4 separate regions of the Homo sapiens genome follow, and regions 1, 2 and 3 are each reported to be linked to region 4. The links are microRNA targets in miRTarBase. Many come from high-throughput screens and were not tested one by one. Region 4 holds a microRNA gene; each other region holds the end of a gene's coding sequence.

Region 1 (4,245 bases), not on the chromosome of region 4:
TCTTTATCTTTCTCACAGAACGATGCCAACGGGACTGCAAAGCCGCCTTTTCTCAGGTAGGCGTGGCTTCCTACGTGAGCCTCAGTGTGTGACATTGCTCTTCCCTGTAGTGTCCCCCGGAAGGGCCTTCGGTGCCCAGCCCAGGGGGTCCAGCCTGAGAAAGGCCTCGGCCTGTGGAGCCATGGGGGAGTGCAGCCCCCTGCTCGCTTTACCAACTACTTTAGACCACGCTGGGAGCAGGGCTTCCCCACCCCAGAGTGACCCCCATGTCACACACAATGCAGGACTAAAGAGGTGTGGGTGCCCACGTCCAGAACGCTTAAAACCTGGGATCGTTCTGCAGCAGGTGGTATGGTGTAGGAATCATCACTGAACAAAACTTTCACACTCAGAAAACGCTGCTGGGACCTGTACAAGCTGGGGAGGTGGTCAGCCGCCCAGTCTCACAGGGCAAGAACGGGTTATTAGCACTGTTAAAATCCAGTTTCCCTCGTAGAGCAGAAGTTCTGAAAGATTTTTCTTATCCCCTGCAGCGGAGAAAACCCCTTTGCCACTGTGAAACTCCGCCCGACTGTGACGAATGATCGCTCGGCACCCATCATTCGATGAGAGGACAGCCAAGGACTCTCCCGGGCCTCTCCGGTTCTCCCTTGCGGAATGATGGGCGCATCCTGTCTGCCACGTGCTGACGGTCGGGAAGCTTCAGTGGAGAGGCCTAACTCTAATGTCGCCTGCTTAAGCAAATCATGCTTCTCTGTTTCACGTAGTTGGGTTGACAAGTTTCTGCCTTTAAGATAAATGAGTAATAGTCTAATGACCAGCTCAGCCATTTAAAATATTTTCTTCCTATTCTGTTCAAGAAACAGTAAACTTGGTTTCAATCTTTACTGTATTTTTTAAATGAATTTTTTCCTTAATAACAGCCAGAATAAGGGATAGTCTATGCTTTCAGGACTGGCTTTCTGCACCTGATATGAATGAGACCAGTTTTATTTTATAAAGCATGTGCTCTTAATAGCATTATGTCTAAAGAAGATATCACGTAAGTTTGCATCTTAGCATGCAAATCATAATTTTAAGCAATATAAATTATGAAAATACTATATAAATGTAATTTAACTTAAAATGTTTAAGTGTAGAGCTTCCAGAGATGGAGAAACCCCCACCCTCCCTCCAACCACGCCAGAGCTGTAGAGTGCTAAGACGCTTTGCCTGCCCTTATCACAGCCACACGTAGCACTCGACGAAATCTCCTCCGAGAGCTCCTTTTCTTGGTAGTTAGGAGTCGCCAACGGATTCGCTGCACACGGCCCATCCAGGACACAGGCCTGGGCGTCGGAGTCACGGCTCCTTGTGTTCTCACTCAGCTAGTTGGCCAAAGCTGCATCCATTACCAGTACACTCAAACTGCTCGGGGTCCTGGTTTCTCCGTGTTTGAATCAGGTACAGACTCTCAAAGGATACGTGTAAAGCCAGGATGACCTCTGGTGCCTGGAGAAGGGCGGGTTTTTCAGCCTAGCAGCCATGATGCCCTCGGAACCTGGCCCTATGGTATGGATGTGAGGACTACGCACTGGCTGCCCTGAGCCCGGGGCTGGAAATCATCTTTGGCTGCCAAGGATCTGGACCTATTTTGGAGTGGAGAGTCATGGTTAAAATTCCCAGCCCGGCCCAGGTACGGGAATCCCAGCATTTTGTGAGGCCGAGGCAGGGGGATCACCTGAGGTCAGGAGTCTCTACTAAAAATACAAAAATTAGACAGGTGTGGTGGTGGGCGCCACTCAGGAGGCTGAGGCAGGAGAATCACTTGAACCCGGGAGGCAGAGGTTGCAGTGAGCCAGATCATGCTGCTGCACTCCAGCCCGGCCGCTCACCGTGTGTGTTGCTGGGTGCTGGGGCTGTGACTTATCCCCTCTCCTTTAGCCTTGCCATAAGTGTAGTATCCTATGAGGCTGAGATTGGGAAAGGTTACATGCAGGTAAGCCAGTGGACGTGGCCGATGCTTCAGGCTCCTTCCAGCCAGGTCCAGCAGTGTTACCATCTGCTTCTCCTGGGAGGACAAACCAGGCACCCCCACCATGAAGGGGCTGCAGGCACCATGAACTATGTTAACAACCCCAGTCTGTACTACAGAAAGGGCTGCAGCCACATGAGAATTCAGTCCACACAAGCCCCATGGCCGTGTTCCCCACTTCAGCCACAGGGCTCAGGGAGCCCCATCTGGCGCTAAGGGGAACTGCTGGGGTGTGGGTGACACCTGGCCTTTGGCGTTCTGCCTTGGGGAGGTTTCTGGTTTTGTTACGGGGTGGAAGAATAGGACCTGGGGGTCTCGGATGCAACCTGCAGACCCCGTGGCTCACCCAACCCCAGGTTCTGCCTCCCAGACCAGAACGGGCATGGCCTGGTCCTTGGCACCGAGGTGCCTGCTCTGTAAATATCAAGGGATTACAACTTTAATAATAAAGCAGAACTTGAAAACATTTTCTTGAGCTGTAAGCGCCTGCTGAATACAACTGTGGTCAGGACTGGCCGGGGGAGCGATGGGGGTGTCGTTCCAGTCTTTCCTGGGTCTCTGAAAGCACCGAGTAAGCAGCACCAGGTCAACAATGGTATGAATCTCATTTATTGAAAACATTATTTCTCACCTTTCTCAAATTGAAGACTGCAAAAAATAAAAGCAGTGCTTTATTGAGTTGTCATGAGCCTCGGGCGGGAGCAGCAGCACTGCCTCTCCACGCTCCGGGAAACCGCAGCTGGCGTGTGCCACATCGGTCCCACCTCGCTTTACAAAACAGTCCTGAAGCTTAATCAAATAAAATTATTGTACACAACATTTACATTAGAAAAAGAGAGCTGGGTGTAGGAAAGCCGGGCCTGGTGTTCCCTTTAAGCGAAGGTGGCTCCACAGTTGGGGCATCGTCGCTTCCTCAAGGCAAAACAGCAAATGAACCCAAAGGGGAAGAGGATGATGGCCAGGAAGATGCCCAGGAAGGTGAAGCAGTCCTCCAGCACCCCAACCCTGCAGCAGAGACGGGCAGAGAGGGTGGCACCGTAAGGACCCGGGCAGCCAGAACCCTCACCCCTGCCACCCTTGCATTCAATAACCAACCAGTGGCCATGAGTCACATGGGGACCTCTGGCGAGTGACAGAAAACAGCCCCCCACCCCACCACCCAGCTACAGCCCACTGGCCTGGAGAGCCCCAAGAACCAGCTGCACGTACCCGTTCATGGAATGGCCATAGTTATTTAATCACTACATGTAACATTCAAAGAAAACGGGAAGAATAAAACAGTTGAAAGGACTCATCAGTTAACCTTGAAAGGCAAGGCAGGGTGTGTGGTGGCTCACGCCTGTAATCCCAGCACTGTGGGAGGCGGAGGCGGGTGGATCACCTGAGTTCAGGAGTTCAAGACCAGCCTGGCCAACACGGTGAAACCCTGTCTCTACTAACAATACAAAAATCTGCCAGGCGTGGTGGCACATGCCTGTAGTCCCGGCTACTTGGGAGGCTGAGGCAGGAGAATCGCTTGAATCCAGGAGGCAGAGGTTGCAGTGAGCCGAGATTAAGCCACTACACTCCAGGCTGGGCGACAGAGCGAGACTCCATCTCAAAAAGTAAAACCTTGAGAGATGGCCGGGCGCGGTGGCTCACGCCTGTAATCCCAGCACTTTGGGAGGCCGAGGCGGGTGGATCATGAGGTCAGGAGATCGAGACCATCCTGGCTAACAAGGTGAAACCCCGTCTCTACTAAAAATACAAAAAATTAGCCGGGCGCGGTGGCGGGCGCCTGTAGTCCCAGCTACTCAGGAGGCTGAGGCAGGAGAATGGCGTGAACCCAGGAAGCGGAGCTTGCAGTGAGCCGAGATTGTGCCACTGCAGTCCACAGTCCGGCCTGGGCGACAGAGCGAGACTCCGTCTCAAAAAAAAAAAAAAAAAAAAAAAAACAACCTTGAGAGGCATGATCATTTTGGTGCCACAAGCCACATACATCTGCTCTTAGAAAAGGAGCAACTAGCAGCTTAGTGATCCAGTCAGGTTTGGGCTTTTATTCGATTTCCGTTCCTTTGGTAGCGGGGGTGGGTTAATGGGAGACTACAGTCGGCCATGTTCACACAATGTCTGAAGGCCACTTATTTTGAGAAATGTGATCTCAAAGCCGCCTCTTCAACAAAGTTCAATGTTTGTAACAGACTAAAGACACCTGCAGGCCATCCCTCAAATCCTGCGCCAGTGAGCCTAGG
Region 2 (4,245 bases), not on the chromosome of region 4:
CAGTGACTTTTATGACCTACTTCAAAGTCTCACAGTCTCTTCCATTTTCCTGTATTAAAAGTAAGTCCCTAATTGCTAAAAGAGTACATTTTTAAATGTTCTCACCACAAAGAAATTATAAGAGGTTATGGATATGTTAATTAGCTTGATTTAATAATTCCATAATGTATACATATATAATAATATAATATTGTACCCCATAAATACATACAATTATTATTTGTCAATTAAAAATAAAATAAAAAGACGTAAGTCACTAAGTCCAGCCCATTTTCAGGATGAGGAAGATTAAGCTTCATCTCTTCAAAGGAGAAGAATCAGACTTTATGGATATAAAACTACCACAGAAGTGATGTTAATGTCTCATTTGAATAATTGATTTGAAATTTTTTGCATTTGGTAGAACTCTGTGCTTGCATGTGCTTGTTACTTTTTTGTTCATAAGTTTTAAATAATAACTTTACTATTTCCTGATGTAAAAAGTAACAAATATAAACTATAGAACACTTAATACAGATAGGGAAGTTAGAAAAACATGAATCACTCATAATTCTACAATGCAGATATAGCCATTTTTAACATGTTTTTATTTCTTGTGTGTATATATATGCAAATATTAGTGTTCACACACACAAATACATATATATATACACACACATACATATATAATATATATGCCTTAAGTACATAATAAATATTTTGGAACATGTGTATGTGTATATTCTTATTTAGATATATAAGAATTTACCCCTGTAATTAAAATTACTTGGAAACAGAATTTTAATGGCTACATAACAATATACAAATAAATGTTTATTTCCCTCTTTTTTTTTTTTTAGAGACGGAGTCTTGCTCTGTCGTCCAGGCTGGAGAGCAGTGGCGCCATCTCGGCTCATGCAACCTCCGCCTCCCGGGTTCAAGCGATTCTCCTGCCTCAGCCTCCCGAGTAGCTGGCATTATAGGTGCCTGCCATTGCACCCGGCTCATTTTTTGTATTTTTAGTAGAGGCAGGGTTTCACCATGTTGGCCAGGCTGGTCTCGAAATCCCAACCTCAAGTGATCCACCTACCTTGGCCTCCTAAAGTGCTGGGATTACAGGCGTGAGCCACCGTCCATGGCCTATTTCCCTCTTTCATCTTTTAAAATAATTTTCTGAACATTTAGGCTTTTTATTTCCTTTTGTCACAATAAATAACAATATAAAACATATCTTTGCAGAATGTCTTTGTATCTCTGGTTATTTTCATATGATAGGATCTTACAAGTAGAATTATAGGATAAACAGACTACTAAATTGCCTTCAAGAAAAATTATATCTATTTGTATTTTTACCAGAAGTTTGAGTCCCCATCTCATGGTGATTTATTGAGTATTTAATGTTATCATTTCTTAATCTTTGCTAATAGGCCAAAATGTGTATTTATTTATTTATTTTACTTTGTACTTCGGTGGCATGTCAGTTATTATTTTACTGTCTCTCAGCTCCACATTCACTGTTGGTTGCCCGCTCCGTGAAAATAGATATAGACTCTTGAAATGTTTCCTTTGCAGCTTGCATGATGGCATACTTTGTCAGTAGAGGGCGCTGGAGACACACTGCAAGAGGAAGGGGTCTTTCCTGATTCCTCCAGGCTGACAGGCCAGGCTACTGGAGAGCAGGCTTTTTTCCTTCACTACTTTGCCTGGAGTGGTTTCTGCAGTGCTGGTTGCCTGTAGGGTGCAGCTTTCTCCAGCATTTCTCCACTTGCTTCTCTAGCTTTTGCTTTGGGCAGTGGTGGTATAACCTGGAGCCACAGTGCAAGCCGGTCCTGAAGCTCCAATTGCTGCTCTCCATTTCTTCTCTTCAGCTGGGTGCACACTCATACAGAGGACCCTGCTGGGCTGGCCAACTACTGAGCCACTTGCCTGAGCTTTGTCTTGTGCAGTCTCGTCACACAAAGTTATGCTAGGTTCCTGCAAAGTAGGTCCCTCCGGCTCCTAATCCCAACAGTGCCTCGAACAGAACCCGTGACTCCTTCTTTGTGCTTACCCTTTGGCAAAGCCCCAAGTCCCTCTGCATATCTGCCCACCTGCCTCAGCTGGTCCACACCTAGGGGGTTGGCTGTACCAGCTTGTCCAGTATCTGTGGTCCTGCTCTGGCCTGGGCAAGCCAGCAAACTTCTCTCCAGTGGGCTGCAACCACACCTTCTCCAGTGAATTCTGAAACCCTCATTCCTGCCTTTCCTTGTTAGGATTCTTTCCCTCAGCCTTAGGGTACCTTCTCTTTTCATCTTTATTATTATTCTCCTATCATAGCTTAATTATTATTTATATTAAACTTTCCCTGTTTAAATTACTACCTTGTTTCTGTCTTCTGATTGATACAGACTAACACAGTTGTTCACTGTTAAGATACGACTTTTTTCATATACTTAGTGGCCATTTGCATTCTCTCTTCTGTGATTTTTCTTTTCATATCTACCTTTTTTTTCTATGTAAGACTTGGTTCTTCTCTTATACATTTCAGTCTATTGAAGACTAACCTTTTGTCATGTTCATGGCAGGTACATGACACTAGTTTTTTATAAGTATGTTGAATTTTAACTATTACATTTGCCTCATTTAAGTGAGATGAGACTATTTTCTTATTAATATTGACAGGTGAAAGAATAGCGATGCAAGCCTCTGGTTTACTCAGTAAGAGAGACTTCTTAGGCTTGAAAAGGCCATAGCACACTTTCACCTTCAACCAGTTTAGGTTTGGTAATACTGAGAAGTAATGCCTTTGTCTTAAAAATGTTTCATATTTTAATATTGTTAATCTTCCAGTTGGGTTTACTGCATATAATCTCATTCCTTAGTACATGTAATATGATCAATTTACTACAATGCTTATGAGGAATGCAAATGGAATTAGTTTACAGAATGAAAGAATGTTGCATATAATTCCATTTTAATACAGAATTTATAAATAAAATCATAGTTTATACTTATAGCATTTCTTCATTTTTAGTGTTTTTTTTTCAAGTGGGTTAAACAGATCTGTGAGTACCTTGAGAGTTGTCATGTAGAATAAGATGCTAAGAGGGCAGAGTTTGGGATTCCCTATGTAACTTCAGCTACAACAGCCTTGCTTTATCCATTGTATTCATTCAGCAACAAATAGGTATTTGTGGGCCAAGTCTTACTTTAGCCGATGTAATATGTCTATGTGATATAAACATTTTTTTGAAAAATAAATAAAGAAAAAGTTCAATTAACTTAAAAAAGAGCTTAAGAAAAGCTTTGAACTGATGAAAGGTCTTTCATCAGCAGAAGAGAGAGAATAAAAGGGCTGGGGGGAGGTTCAGAAAATTTCAATTAGGATTTCTTAACAGAGTCCATAATTTTTCCTTTCCAAAGGCCAGACAGCTCTGATGTTACAGATAGTCAGAAGTCAACAGGCCATTTAAGATAGTCCTAGATTTTATGAAAATGCCAGAGTTTTCAAGAAGCTACTGTCACTATCAGGTAGATTCCTTGATGGTGTAAGACTGTATTTCTTTTTCATTCCAAGAACTGGCAGCTTCTTTTTTCTGAGTCATTTCTGAATCCATTGATTATGTTTCAGTTCTCTTGAGAGTCCAAGCTAAATGAAGTTTAAACTGCTTATCTGAAGACACCATTTAAATTTGAGTTCATTACATGGTTTACTATAAAAGCTATTTGGCATATGCAGTATTCAAGCTTATTTCAGTTACTGAAACTAAACTCAAACTCATTTTGTCCAACTGTGAACCCTAATTAACCTCATCACTTCAAAAAGAAATGAGCTTTTTTTGACATTCAATTTTCTACGATTCAAGTCTCATATATGTTCGTATAAATGCAAGTACAGAACTTATGCATTCATCAAAGAGTAATATCTCTGAGTTTTTTGAAATGTTTTAGCAATAGAAGCTTGTACTGCTAAACTGTTGTCTCTGTTTTTATTACTAGTTTATTTTGAAGACATTTCAGTATAATCGCCTTTTCTTTATTGAATCTGAAAATGAGAAGAAGAAAGACTATTAAAAATTGGACATATTTTGTGCATTGGACATATTAAAGAACGGAGTATCCAATGTGCATGCTCTTGACTTACTTTGTTACTATTCTTTGAATCTCTCTTTTCTCTTCTTCATTTAATCTTTGAAGAATGGATTCCAAGAGAGAAAAGTGAAAGTTAATGTACTGAGCCACCTAAGAAAGAAGAAGAAGAAAAAAAAAAGAAAGCAGAACAATTAT
Region 3 (4,245 bases), not on the chromosome of region 4:
TAATAATGTCCTAAGAAGGCAGCCAGTAGAACCTTGGCTACTGTTTTTCAAAAGTGGCTCTGCATTGCTCCTACATAACCCCGTACATTACTCCACAGTCCTGTTAGAGCCCTGAAAGGGAAACTGCTAAAAATAAGGTTCTTCATTTAGGTGACTAGGAACTCCCAATATTTTTGCCCTAGGGAATACTGGGAGACAAATCTCTACGATCACAAATTACTAATGGTTTCCCCAGAACTGCTGGTGGCCATATCCCCTGGCATGTGGAAGGGCCCAGAAGAGGCCACTCTACTGCAGAGGCCAACAGAAGGTATGATTGGTGGAGGGATGGGGGGGTGGTTGGAGGGGCAAATGGAAGGGAGCTTGAGTCACTAGATCCAATCAAGCCCATAGTCATGGCCACCACTGTCCTCAAGTTCTATGAGCCAGCTTTTTTTTTTTTTTCCTTAAGCTAATTTGAGCTGTGCTTCTACCACAGCTAAGATTCATGCCTAATATATCTTTTCCCTAGATTACTCCCTATGTACCATAAAAATCTGGTGTGTAAATACACATGAAGGGCATCCCTCATCCTTATTTGCTATATTAAAAATATTAACTAACTCTTAGCTTGCTGCGGATGCCAGGAATGCAGTAATGAATTTGGAAAACTATCCAAACAAACAGGGGAATCTTCATTCGCAAAGAATATGGGAGGGAGAACAGCAGATTTTTAATTTGGATAGTAAGACGAGCAGCCCTTAAAGAACCAGGTAAAAGAAGTTGGTTTATTTAGGCTTGTTAGTGGGCAAGGTTGAGACACTGGCCAAGATACTTTTTTTTTTGGGGGGGGGGGGGGTGGTGATTGATTGATAGGGTCTCACTCTATTGCCCAGGCTGGAGTGCAGTGGAGCAATCATAGCCACGACCTCCCAGGCTCAAGTGATCCTCCCACCTCAGCCTCCTGAACAGCTGGGACCACAGGTGCACACCTGGCTGATTTATTTTATTTATTTATTTATTTATTTTTTTTTTTGTAGAGTGTTGCCCAGGCTGGTCTCAAACTTCTGGGCTCAAGCAACCCTCCAGCCTCGGCCTCCCAAAGTGTTGGGATCATAGGCATGAGACACCGTGCCTGGCGAAGATATTTTTACCGAAAAGGACAGAGGGTGTACTTGGAGGTAAGGGACCCAATTCCATTAGTCTAGCCACAATAATGTGTTTGTTTCCTCATAACCACAGTCTTGGTTGGGCTGCTGTAACTAAATATCAACTGGGTGGCTTATAAACAATAGAAATTTCTCACAGTTCTGGCTGGAAAGTCTAGGTTCAAGGCACTGGCAGATTCAGTATCTGGTGAGAACCCACTTTCTGGTTCACGGATGGTGACTTCTTGCTGTGTTCTCCCATGGCAGAAGAAATGAGGGGGTCTCTATCTTATCTTGAGTCTCTTTTAAAAGGCACTACCCTCATGATCTAATCACCTTCCAAAGGCCCCAGCTTCTATTACCATTACCTGGGGGGTTAAGGTTTCACCACCTGAATTTTGGGGAGGATACAAAAATACAGACCACAGGAGCCACTGAATGCGGGGAGCGAGACAGCTCCCCAGCTGCTCAGTAATGGAGAGCTGAGAGGGTGGAGGTCTGTTTTCTCAGCCATTCTTAGTGTTTTTATTCTAGGACTGATCTTAACTTGAGGATCACAGGTTTTTTTGTACAATGGAGTTCTGTTTGTTTGTAATTTTTTTTTTTTTTTGAGACGGAGCTTTGCTCTTGTAGCCCAGGCGGGCGTGCAATGGCACGATCTCGGCTCACTGCAGCCTCTGCATCCCGGGTTTAAGCAATTCTCCTGCCTCAGCCTCCTGTGTAGCTGGGATTACAGGCACACAATACCACACCTGGCTAATTTTTTGTATTTTTAGTAGAGACGGGGTTTCACCATGTTGGCCAGGCTGGTCTAGAACTCCTGACCTCAGGTGATCTACCCACCTCGGCCTCCCAAAGTGATGGAATTATAGGCATGAGCCACTGCGCCTGGCTGTTTGTTTGTAATTTATTTTTTAAATGAATATAAATAAGATCCCCAGGACCGCAAGTGCAGGGATGCTAAATAACCTGTCTTGATCCCTCATCTGGTGAGAAGTAGAAAGAGGATTAGATTCCAGATGTTCTGATGACCAGGCCATATCCCCTGAGTGCTAAGGTTGACATTAAAAATTCATTACAAAGATCCTGCCCTCCTGTCCTTGGACATCACAGCTCCTGCTTGTTCCTGGGCATTCAGACTCTGGGACTTATACCAGCATTCCCCATGCCCCTCCCCAGGTTCTTAGGCATTTGGACTTGAACCAAGTTGTTATACCACCAGCTTTCCTGGGTCTCCATAAGAGTGGGACCCTGATCCAATACAATTAGTGTTGCTGTAAGAAGAGACATGAGAGCCTATTTTCTCTCTCCCCCACCAGGCACATACCAAAGAAATGCCATGTGAGAACAAGCAAGAAGGTGGCCATCTGTAAACCAGGAAGAGTGTCCTCACCAGAAAATGAAGTGGCTTCAACTTTGATCTCAGAATTCCAGCCTCCATAACTGTGAGAAAATACATTTCTGTTCTTTCAGCCAGTCTATGGCATTACATTATAGCAACCCAAGCAAACTAAGGCATGCCCAGAAATGACTACAGGGGTAAAAATGAGCAGATAATTGGTTTTTAGTGTCCTGAAGTTTATCTGCTTTTCCTTATGTACTTATATCGTTGCCACTGCCACCAGGCTACTCTTCCTTCTTGTCTGCTCCCAAACAGGGAAGAGCGAGCATAATGGTTCCTAAACATTTCCGTTATACCCGTACAGTTCTGATAGAGTTGTAAAAATGGGAGAATATGAAGGTTATTCAGGCTTCCCAATGATATGGTGTGAGATTCACTCTGTACTAAATATCCCAAAACTCTAGCCACAAACACAGCAAAACTCAAAGTCAACAAGTTTTCACTGAAAATAGATTTCATTTCATTCAAATTAGAAATGTGTTCTCCCAAACCGCCTCCCAACAAAGGTCTCTGCTTGATAAATGAAAAGATAGTAAAAGAAAACTTCACATTTCTTTTTATGTGGATCTATCAAAAGGTACATAATCAAAACAACTTTAACACCCGACCTATCCATGAGGAGTCTGGATGATTCACTCTGAAGGAAAAGGGGAGAGAAGAGAGAATCACTGCTCTGATTTGAAGTGTGCAAAGTTCTTATCTATGTCACTTAACACTGGTATAATTAATACAGAAAGGAAAATGACCCTCAAGAGGAAGGTTTCATTGAGCAGAGCGTAAGAGGAACAATAAGAGGGTAGGAGACACCTCCTGAGAAGGTTTGCTTGTGTTCAGCTGAAGATTAATAGGAAACAGTGAAAAAGCAACGTCCTGTGATCAGTAACTTTAAAGACAAGCTTGGTTCTCTCTTTCTGGCACTACTGACATTCCCACCATTCTAGCTTCCAAATTCTGGAAAAAGAGAAGATGATTAACAAAAATAGAGAATGTAGAAACTTCTGGTTTTGTGCCTACAGGATTGGCACCAGACCCTCAGTGCTCACTTGCTCCATCTACAAGGCAGCACCCCTCCCAGAGGCAGCCAGGGAGGCCTCTCCACCAGGGCCTGCGCTGGCTGGTGGTGCGGCTTCCTCCCTGGGCGCAGCACCAAGTGCACGTCTCCTACTTGGCCATCTTGCGGATCATGTAGTTGAGGATGCCCCCGTTGAGGAAATAAGTGAGCTCCACATCAGTGTCAAACCTCATGACAGCCTGGAAGGTCTTGCCAGTATCCAGCTGTGGCACAAAGAAACAGAAGCATCATTGAGGGAGGTGGCGAGACAGCTCTGCTCGGAGGAAATTCTGCCCAGCCTGCCCCTCAGGTGTGGTCCACACTTCAGTAACACCAGCAGCACATGAGGACATGCAAGGCTGCTGGCCCCAGCCCAGACCCACTAAATCAGAAGATGCATTTCAGCAAGATCTCTGGGAGGCTGCTTTGCCCATTACAGTTTGAGAATCACTGCAGACTGTAAATGATGGGGGTGAGAGCCATCTAAGAACTAGAAATAGCTTCTCAGGGCAGTAGCTATTAATGACATCAGGGTGGTATTTTCTAAACCTCTGGGGGCTCCCTGTGGACAGAAGTATTCAATCAGCAGAGATTTCATTAAGGTTGTCCCTTAGGCAGCTGGCCCATCTGCTTATCTGAGACACAGACTTTTGCACTGCCTCTGT
Region 4 (4,484 bases):
CACTGCTGGCTTGAAGGGTGGCTTGATCTCACGACGGTATAGCTTCTGCACAGTGGGGTGGGCACTCTGGTCACCATGGCATCCTCAACAGCCCACCAGGAGCCCCATGCAGGAGGAGGTGCTGGGCTTGGAACATAGGCCATATTGCCCAGCTCTCGGAATTGCTTGCCCTCAGGAGGCCAGCCCTTGTCTTCAAGGGCAGGCTGTGACCCTCTGCTCCTGCGTCTGGGGCCCTCGCTGGCAGAGGCTCCCCTCCCACCACCCTTCCTGTGGCCAAGATGGCTGAGCCCTGGCCAGAGCCCTGGTGTGGGTGGACACACTCACATTCCAGTCAATGGTGGAGTAGAAGACATGCCGCTTGATTTCCTCTGCCCCATCAGGGCCGGAGCCTGAAAGAGCCCAAATGAAGGGTCTGTCCCTGGCTGGCACAAGTCCCAGATATTACCCTGCCCACCAAGCAGCCTCACAGGGCTCTGGGACCAGCTGCTGGAGCAGAGGGGAAAATGGGCTCACTCAGCCTCAAATCTACCCAGCCATCACCCTAAGGCCTGTCACCTACTCAGCATTTTCCACTTTCTGGAGCTTCTGATGAAGAAATTCCAATGTACCAGTGGGAGGAGGAAGGCCCAGAGACTTTAGGCAACTTCTCCAAGGCCACACAGTTAGAACAGAAGCTGAGCTTGTTCTGAGACCTACAGAGAGCCCCACCTCATTCCAAGGCAAGCCTCATCTCTGTTCCTCTTATCCCATTGACCTTTTCAACCATAGGACAGGCTGTTACTCCATTCGACCCCAGGGGCCTTGACTGGACCTTACACAGCTGGTCATGGACCAGATGAACCCAGGAGCCAGGGAAGCCAGCACACACTGGACACCTACTACATGCCGGCATGTTCACACAACCTCATTTCATCAACAGAGCCCTGAAGCAAGCTTGGGATCATCATCTCCCATTGAGACGAGGAACCTGCGGTGCAGAGAGGTGAAGTCACCTGCCTGGGGTCACTTAGTTCATAAGTGGCCTCATTCGTTTAACAAATATTTATAGAGGGACTGTTTTGTGCCAGGCAGTGGGGACCTGACACAGAGCCGGGATTGGGACCTATGCCTTCTGACTCCTGAGCTCATGCTATTTCTCTTGTGCCAGCAGCCTTGGCGGAGAAGCTGTGTGGGGGCCTCTGTCCTTGTCCCCAGAGGGAGTAGGGATGACTCAGTTCCTGCCTTCCCCCTACACACAGGTCAACTCCCCCCTCCACAACACCACACATGGAGCCAGAAAGCAGGGTGGCCCGCGGCATTGTCTGCCCACACAAAGGACAACGGCCCCTTTCAGCCCAGATGTGGCCCTGTGGCCTAGGCTGCAGCTGTACCCGGCTCCCCATCGCCACATCCCCTCCCCTGAGCTGGGGCTGCTTACCGAGCCGGTTGGCAGGATTCCGCTTGAACAGGGCCCGCAAGAGGCTCTGGGCTTCAGTGCTCAGAAACTGGGGCATGCCTAGCTTCGCCCTGAAACAGCCCCCGGGACTCATCAAGGCTGAGCCCTGCCCCAGAGGCCCCATCTCCCCCGGCCCCTGTCCAGATCTAGTTCCCAGCTCAGTCTAGACAAGCCATCCACTAATTCACTTCCCAAAGGCTTCAGGGATCCTACCCACAGGCCCCCAGGGATGAAAGAGGGGCTCTGGAAGGTATAATGTTTAACCCAGAGGAGAGTCTCATTAGAGAGGGTAGCTGAGGCAGGGACAGGGTAATAATATTCTGACCCCCAAACTGGGGCTGGGGCTTGGAGGAGTCCATTGTTATCAGGGCAGGGCTGGGGCTTACTTCAGAATCAGTGTCATGGTCTCCTTCCGGTCCTTCCCCTGGAAGGGCAGGGAGCCCGTCAGCATCTCAAACTGCAGAGGACAAGGATCTATTCAGGCTCTGATCCCTGTCTCCGACACACCTCCCGCCTCCTCCCAGTCAGACCCCTCTGCCCCAGTCCCAGGATTCTTGCTGATACATCCAAGTCAGCCTGGAGCAAGAATTATGCCCGTCCCTCTTGCCTCTGCCAACCAGACCACCAGGAGCAGCGGTGGGGGCGCGAGGCTGGGGAGAAGGCCAGCACTGGGTTAGGCGCGTCCCAGGTGGGGTCAAGCCTGGGATCCTTCCAAGGAAGAAAACTGCAGGTGCATATAGGGTGAGGCCAGCTTGGCTGTGAGAGGAGACGGGGAGAGCCCTAGAAATGATCAACCCCCTCACTGTACAGATAGGGAGACTGAGGCCAGAGGCTTGGGCTGGATCCTTTACCCCTGTCTGGGCACTCACCATCAACACCCCATAGGACCACCAGTCCGCACTATGGGAGTGGCCCTGGCGGTTGACGACCTCAGGGGCCATGTACTCCACTGTCCCGCAGAAAGAATAGGCCTTCTTCTCGTGGTCAATGGCCTCTTTGCTCAGGCCAAAGTCTACAGCAAGGAGGGCAGGAGGACACACCTTAGGACCCCTGCCTTCCTTGCTGCCACCCTTTGCACACCCAACCCCCGTGCCCAGAGGCCAGAAGGCATCACCCCCATGACACTCAGGAGGAAGCTAAGGCCCAGAGAGGTCAGGTGACTTGCTCAACGTTACACAATGAGGGGCTGGGATTCCAGCTGAGGGTGTTCCAAGTCTGAGGCCTGAGTTTTTGACCACTTCCAAGTAACTGGCACGGCTTCTCGGGAAGAATGAGCCCCCAGCACTCAGCCGAGACCTATCATGACCTTGTCCTGTCCTCCCCTGGGTCCCGAGGGGGCAGGCGCCCTCCACTCACCAGTGAGTTTGATGTGGCCCTCCTCATCCAGAAGGATGCTGTAATAGAGAAATAGTGGTCAGGGCCCCTCAGCTGTGGCCGTGTGGGTGATGGTGTTACCACAGGGCTGTGGGAGTTGGGTTCAGCCCAGAGGAGGTGCTCCACCCAATTCTCTCTGATGACTGGGCGGGTGTTGCAGGGTGGTAGCAGTACCACGCAGGGGTGTTGCCTATCTTTTTTGCTAATCCTTGAAGCAACTGTGTGAGGCAAGTACTATTAGGGCCCCGTTTTGCTAATGGGAAAACTAAGGCTCAGGGCAGTTAAGTAGCTCTACAGTCATTGAGCTAGTAAGTCTAGCTAGTAGGTGGAGACAGGATTTGAATACAGGGCTGCCTAACACTAAAGCCAGATCTTATTCCAACTCACCACCTGCCCCTGGCTCCTTAGTTATCATTTGAGGGTAGTTAGATATTAGGGAAAATTCTATAGGGCTTTATCAAGGAAAGACCTCTAAAGGTGGCATCTCAAATGTCACACTAGATTAGCAAAAAAAGACGGGCAACATTACCTGCATGCAAAGTACCTGGCCCTTGGTAATGGTAGCATTAGTGACTGGGCAGCTGGCACTACCACCCACCCCACTCACCCATCCCTCAGATTGCCCAAGAGAGGGAGACGTTTCTGGAGAAAGCCATGCCCACCCACCTCAGGATGGCCCTGTCCTAGAAGAGGCCTCCCCTGGGGAGGCTGGGGTGGGGCTGGAGGCTTCACTCACTTCTCAGGCTTGAGGTCTCTGTAAATGATACCCAGGCTGTGCAGGTGATCCAGGCCCAGAGCCAGCTCAGCCAGGTAAAACTTCACATCCTCCTCCGTGAACATCACCTGCAAAAGACAGGAGGGGCCTTCAGCAGGGACCTCCTCTTCCTTAAGAGCTGGGGCACTGGGCAGTCAGCAGCTTCCTGGTCCTGAAGAGCCACCCTGGGAGGACCCTTGGAAACCCCAGGCCATATAGCCTTCTCATCATACAAAGGATTTGAAGTATGAAATGACTAATACGCAAGCCACTCATTGTGGCACCATTCAGAAATAGAAGGGGTGGGAAACAGGCCTAGGGTCCAAGAGTAGAAGGCTGGAATCAGCCCTCTCCCCTGCATAATGGAGTGCTTTGCAGCCATGAACTGGAACAAGGAGTTTCTCCGTGTTCTGACATGGAGTGAGCTCCAAGATATACTATCTTGAAAAAAGCAAGGTACAGAACAGTGTATACAGAATAGTACTTTTTACATAAGGAAATGGGGGTAGGAATGAACATATATCGGATTTGTTTGCAAAAGAAACATGGGAAAGTTAAACAAGAAACCAATAAAAATGTTTACCTATAGATGGGAATAGAGGGGGCTGGGGTGGGAGGAAGACTTCTTCATGAATATTTTTCTTTTGAATCATGTATATTACCTATTCAAACATTAAAATCACAATTTAAGCCGGGCACGGTGGCTCACACCTATAATCCCAGCCAGCAGTTTGGGAGGCTGAGGCAGGCGGATCACCCGAGGTCAGGAGTTCGAGACCAGCCTGGCCAACATGGAGAAACCCTGTCTCTACCAAAAATACAAAAATTAACCAGGCGTGGTGGCGTGCACCTGTCATCCCAGCTACTCGGGAGGCTGAGGCAGGAGAATTGCTTGAACCCGGGAGGCGGAGGTTGCAGTGA

The links. The annotated mature microRNA hsa-miR-1976 reads CCUCCUGCCCUCCUUGCUGU and lies in region 4 at 2,450-2,469, opposite strand. An mRNA with a match to its seed (bases 2 to 7 or 8) in the 3' UTR can be bound and repressed. Matches are read on the target gene's strand: a 7mer-m8 pairs with bases 2 to 8, a 7mer-A1 pairs with bases 2 to 7 and ends in A, and an 8mer does both.
Region 1: the mRNA of BAIAP2L1 is a reported target of hsa-miR-1976. Seed matches in the 3' UTR shown: 8mer at 1,795-1,802.
Region 2: the mRNA of RASSF6 is a reported target of hsa-miR-1976. Seed matches in the 3' UTR shown: 8mer at 926-933.
Region 3: the mRNA of ACO1 is a reported target of hsa-miR-1976. Seed matches in the 3' UTR shown: 7mer-m8 at 2,241-2,247 and 8mer at 1,827-1,834.

Annotation. Positions count from the first base shown.
Region 1 is chr7:98,289,885-98,294,129 of GRCh38, reverse strand. BAIAP2L1 (BAR/IMD domain containing adaptor protein 2 like 1) reads left to right here. Exons shown (of 14, transcript NM_018842.5): 13 at 19-56; 14 at 534-2,480. The coding sequence ends at 609. It overlaps BRI3 (brain protein I3), which reads right to left. Exons shown (of 3, transcript NM_015379.5): 3 at 2,585-3,019. The coding sequence ends at 2,887. Among named protein-coding and RNA genes, the nearest start is that of BRI3, 10 kb to the right of the region's middle.
Region 2 is chr4:73,572,308-73,576,552 of GRCh38, forward strand. It overlaps RASSF6 (Ras association domain family member 6), which reads right to left. Exons shown (of 11, transcript NM_177532.5): 10 at 4,103-4,200; 11 at 1-4,003. The coding sequence ends at 3,928. Among named protein-coding and RNA genes, the nearest start is that of RASSF6, 46 kb to the right of the region's middle.
Region 3 is chr9:32,449,557-32,453,801 of GRCh38, reverse strand. ACO1 (aconitase 1) reads right to left here. Exons shown (of 21, transcript NM_002197.3): 21 at 1-3,804. The coding sequence ends at 3,691. Among named protein-coding and RNA genes, the nearest start is that of ACO1, 67 kb to the right of the region's middle.
Region 4 is chr1:26,552,559-26,557,042 of GRCh38, reverse strand. It overlaps MIR1976 (microRNA 1976), which reads right to left and starts at 2,501; the gene lies at 2,450-2,501. It overlaps RPS6KA1 (ribosomal protein S6 kinase A1), which reads right to left. Exons shown (of 22, transcript NM_002953.4): 7 at 3,546-3,652; 8 at 2,792-2,829; 9 at 2,305-2,447; 10 at 1,822-1,892; 11 at 1,418-1,506; 12 at 325-389; 13 at 1-45.